2 separate regions of the Homo sapiens genome follow, and region 2 is linked to region 1. The links come from fine-mapping of genetic effects on gene expression. Tissue or cell type: pancreas. Region 1 holds a variant in brackets; the other region holds the start of a gene. All regions are shown on one strand. Distances are from middle to middle.

Region 1 (2,685 bases):
TGTGCACCTGTGGTGCCAGCTACTGCGGAGGCTGAGGTGGGAGAATCGCTTGAACCCAGGAGGTGGAGGTTGCAGTGAGCTGGGATCACACCACTGCACTCCAGCCTGGGTGACAGAGCGAGATGCCATCTCAAAAAAAAAAAAAAGTTTTATCTGATCCCTTCAAACTATGCCTTTCTGTTGCATTCTTGGTCTGGGCCTTCCGAGAAAATGTCCTTTTCTCAGAGGTGATGAATCAGGCCACATTCCTCCTCCACCTTCCTGAGAAGCTCTCTCAAATGCTACCTCTGTTCCCAGGGTCTCCCAAACCCAAATGCCGCCTGGCCCAGCATCCCCATTCAGAGTCCTCTCCTCACACACAGCCACTCTGGCTGGCTTCCCCCACAGCCCCCAGGTGACCCTGTGTCCATTGAGAGGCTGCCTCCCTCTCACTCCCCTGTGTCTCTGTTGCTCCTTCTAGTGGAAGAACCTGAAGGTCTTGATGCCGGGGAGCTGGCAATCAGTCAACCCTCAGGATGTCCCTCCTATCCTCCACTATATCCAGGGTCTCTTGGGCACCACAGTTCTTCCCTTAGCCCTGTTAGGGCAGGCGTCTCGCACTGCCCCCCTCTGCTGCCCACCTCCCACTCTCACCACTGGCCCAGGGCATGGGGTGTACCATCAGGCACATAGGCCTTATCACTGTGCAAACACTTCCTCTTTCCCCAGTGCTGGTTCTCACACAATTGGTAATCAGTGTAAACTTCCTCTGACAATTTACTGAGCAAACATTTACCATACAACTGCCCTATGTAGGGCTCTGTGCTAAGGCCCATGGGGAACCCAAGCCTGGTCTCCACCTTGGGGCATCTCGAGTCTGGTAGAGATGAGGCACATGAGGCGTCTCAGATGCCGCGGGTCTTGCGGACCAGAGCACCGCGGACTGGAATCCCATTTCTGCTCTCTACTCCCTGTCTTACCTTGGAGCAAGTGACATCCTTTCTGATCTTGAATTTCCTTAGCTGTGAAATGGGAGTAATGCTGTCTAGGTTTGTTGTGAGGACTAACTAAGATCCCTAGAGGGCCTGGCAGAGCACCTGAGATAAGGACATTCCACAGTCCCTGTGGTGCCACCTTTCAGATATGAATTGAGGGGTCCCTATATACTACAGGGTCAGCCAATCATCTAGTCAACAAGAACACATTCAAAA[C/T]GGAAGTGTTGGGTAAGTGGGGAACACACATGAACATAACACACATACACATAAGGGTATAAACATAACCCTTTAGTTTAGCGGGAGTGGGTGGTGGTAGGAGTTAGTGTTTTTTTAATTAAAAAAAAATTTTATAGGAATGAGGTCTCACTGTGTTGCCCAGGCTGGTCTCAAATTCCTGGACTCAAGCAATCCTCCCACCTTGGCCTCCCAAAGTGCTAGGAGGGGGTTAGTTTTAATATACCCATATGCAACAGCAAGAGATTATTATGGGATAAGTCTGTTTCCTAGGTAAATGCTTATCCTGTGGGCACAGCCTGTGAAGGAGATATCTCTGTAGGCCTGCGGGAGTTGGGAAATTTCTCAGTGTTGAGGAGTCAGCACACAAAATCAGAGGAACGCAGGCAAAGCAGTCATCAGCATATCAAGGCACAGGGGAGTGATGGCTTCCCTTCTTCACTCCTACATCAAAACAGGCAACCTAAATGGACCTTTTTTTTTTTTTTTTTTTTTTTTTAATGTGGTGACGGAGTCTTGCCCTGTCGCCCAGGCTGGAGTGCAGTGGCGTGATCTTGGCTCACTGCAACCTCTGCCTCCCAGGCTCAAGCAATTCTCCTGCCTCAGCCTCCCAAGTAGTCAGGACTACAGGCACACACCACCACGTCTGGCTAATTTTTGTATTTTTAGTAGAGACGGGGTTTCACCATGTTGGCCAGACTGGTCTCGAATTCCTGACCTCAGGTGATCCGCCCGCCTCGGCCTCCCAAAATGCTGGAATTATAGGCGTCAGCCACTGCGCCCTGCTAATGGACAACCTTTAAACCTACATGTTTGGCTATTTCTTAGTATTTTAGGGTTGCTTCGTGCTCTGGCCTGGGTTTGCAGGAAAAATGGGAGAGAAGAGGAGAAAAGGGCTGGAAGAGGCTTGGCCATGGTAGAAGGCATGGGTGGGTGTGAGGAGAAGGAAACAGAGTGATGGGCCAGCAAGGAGTCACAGGGTTTCGGGATCTGGGCTAGCGACCCTCCTGGCCTCCAATGGGCTAACACGGAAAAGAGGGATGCTGATACTCCTGGTGTTGGAGGAAGATTCTGGGGAAAGACACCAAGAGGAAGCACAGGGCAGCTACAGATGCATCCATGGACCGAGCATGAGCTTTGGTGTGAAGCCAACCTCGGTTTCCATGGGGCCTCAGCACTGACTAACTGTGTGACCTTGGTCAAGTTACTTTACCTCTTTGAACCTCAGTTCCCTAATCTCCAAGTGAGAATAACAACATCTGTTTCATAGCTCTTTTGCGAGGACTGTAAATTGTATAGCACAGAGCCTGCCAGAATGTAGGCGACCAAGTTCCCTTCCCCCTTCTCAAGCTTCCAGGAGTGCCCCAGAAATACAAGACTGGCTATATTTAGTGTCTGGCTCCCTCCCCCGACAACCCATGGTTAAATTAGAATGAAACTATTTATGCTAAAGTCTCTGAAGTTCTAAAATTCTCTG
Region 2 (2,685 bases), 130 kb before region 1:
CCCAGCACTTGGGGAGGCTGAGGCGGATGGATCACGAGGCCAGGAGTTCAAGACCAGCCTGGCCAAGATGGTGAAACCCTGTCTCTACTAAAAATACAAAAAAAAAAAAAAAAAAAAAAGAAGTTTTGCAGTCCTAACTCATTATCTGTGGGATTAGCGACACACTGGGAAGGCAATAGCCAATACCTACAGAAGGCAGAGGGTAAATTGAGCTTGCATTTGTGTGTGCCTGTTGAGGGAAGATTAGCCACATTAAAGCAGAGGTAGAGGCTGCCAACAGTTTGTCCATCCCCTCAAATAATCCTTTATTGCTCTAGGAAGAATACCAGGCTCCACATTCAGTGTTCCCATCACCTATTCTGGAATGGATAAAGAGTTTTTAATAAGAAAAACGTCAGCTGGAAAAGGTAAATGTTCTTTCAAAACCAAAAAAGAATAGAAAGAAATTAAGTGGAGAACTGAGGGAAGCTTGGAGAAAGAGGTCTGAAGAAAGTGCAGCAGCTGCAGAGGAAGCATTTATATATGTTATATACATGACATCAGGTCATCTAAATGCCAGCTCTTCAATCAATGTTAGCCTTTCTATAAGAAACCTGACTTGGTTTGATGATGCCACAACGGCGAGCACTGGGGAAGCCCTCTATTTCCCTTGGAAGAGAGAAGCTCATTAATATGTGTATCTAGATGCTCAGGCACCACTGACTAATAATAACAGCAGGGTGATCTTCCATTTACACCATGTTTTACCGATTGCACAGCATTTTCATACTCATTGCTCTACAAACTACCTCTTTGCCATGCAGCTACCAAATAGCCAGCGGCTTCTAGTTCACATTTGTCAAGAACACGTCCCTTGTTCCTATGCCCACAACCTAGGTTACCACCCCAAAGCCTGCAGGCCACATACCTGAGTATGCTTACGGAAAAACACCCCTTGCACCTTCCCAAAAATTTCATAATCCACTGATATCAGGGTGTTTCCTTCTGCCATGCTCAAACCTGTCAGAAACCAGGAAAGCAGAAGAGTGAAGGGCTATTATTCCAGGACCCGCAAGCCTGAGTCAGAAAGGGCCACACCCACCCCTGTCCATCCTTAACCATTGCGACCTCTCCCCGACTTCAAGGTCCTGGAAATGGAAACGTGAGTGGATGTGATAAGGTGTGTGTGAAGGAAGAACCAGACGCCGGGAGAGGGAGCTTCGGATCGCAGCTGCCCGCTGAAGCCTCTTCTGGGGAAATAACCTGAGGACCGATGACCTCCTTACATCCATGCCCGGTCCCGCTCCCTCACTACCAGAATTCCCTGCTACTAACTCCCAGAATCCCCTGCTACTAACATTTTAGGGCTAATCGACCTGAGAAGCACACCCTGGGGGCCCCTGGCGGCTCACCCTCCTTGTCTTCCCCACCGGCTGCCAGGATCACTCCGGGACCACCACGCCAACGGCTCACCAAGGCGCGCAAACCTCCGCGCCCGGAAGTTTAGTGTGTAGCTGCTCCTTCGCTGTCGCTCATGCCCATCACCTCCAGCTGACCAATCAGAGACGGCGCCTCGGCCCGGGCCCGCCCAGAAGGTGGGATTTCAGGACGCGGTTGTCCGGCAACCCAAAAGCTTTGGGTTGGGGATCTGTCCAGGAACTCGGCTGGGCCTCCACAAACCTAGCCCTCATCGCATCTCAGTCAACAAGCGCAACCCTCTTCTCATTTTCTCATGAGGAGAAAGGCATAGACGAAGAAGTACATGGGGATACATTCAATCATTCAATTAAATACTGACTGACAGCTACTGTGTGCCAGGCACCTGTTCTAGGTGACCAGGCAAACATCAGTGAACAAAACAGGATCCCTGTCCTGAGGAGCTTAATTCTGGAGGTGAGAGACAAACAGCACACATTAAACATCATAAATAGCTTGTAATCTCAGCACTTTGGGAGGCCGACACGGGCGAATCACTTGAGGTCAGGAGTTCGAGAGCAGCCTGGCCAACATGGTGAAACCCCGTTTCTACCAAAAATACAAAAATTGGCCGGGCATGGTGGCGGGCGCCTGTAATCCCAGCTACTCGGGAGGCTGAGGCAGGAGAATCGCTTGAACCTGGGAGGTGGAGGCTGCAGTGAGCCGAGATTGCCCCACTGCACTCCAGCCTGGGCAACAGAGGGAGACTCTGACTCAAATAAATAAATTAATAAATAAAAAAATAAACATCATAAATATGTTGAGTAGGATACATTTAACCTTTCTGTCCTTTTTCATTCAGTTCTCCTTAAAGTTTGGGTCATAACAATCTGGAATAGGGGATTACGGGGCATAAGTGCACAGGAGGTCCCAATGGAGGTTATGTCTGCTTCTGGGCTTCTGGAAGCTACTCACCGGTCTCCTTTACTAAGAAAATGTCAAATAATGCTTGAACAAATAACCAGCTAACTACACAAATAAAGCAAGAGCACAAGCAAAATAACTCATGGCTCCAGAATTACAGTTGAGTCAGTCAATCTAAGCCAAATGGCCAAACTACACGAATTTATTTTGGGAACAGGGAATTGTCAAGGGGGATGTGGATGAAGATGGTTAAAATTAGAGTTGATGTGTAAACATTTGAATCCAGCTACCCTTATGATTCATGTGTGTGAAGGAAAACTGTGGTGTTTATTGATCCTCTGTGGATTGACTGTATACATTACACCT

What was found. PIP is the estimated chance that this variant, and not a neighbour inherited with it, causes the effect.
Region 2: it holds the start of ACYP1, and the variant in region 1 is fine-mapped to the expression of ACYP1 in pancreas (GTEx, PIP above 0.99).

Annotation. Positions count from the first base shown.
Region 1 is chr14:75,195,989-75,198,673 of GRCh38, forward strand. No RefSeq gene overlaps it. Among named protein-coding and RNA genes, the nearest start is that of TMED10, 21 kb to the left of the region's middle. The variant C/T (reference allele first, on the strand shown) is at 1,191.
Region 2 is chr14:75,062,563-75,065,247 of GRCh38, forward strand. It overlaps ACYP1 (acylphosphatase 1), which reads right to left and starts at 1,462. Exons shown (of 3, transcript NM_001107.5): 1 at 1,392-1,462; 2 at 908-999. The coding sequence starts at 991. RefSeq lists an enhancer at 1,633-1,802.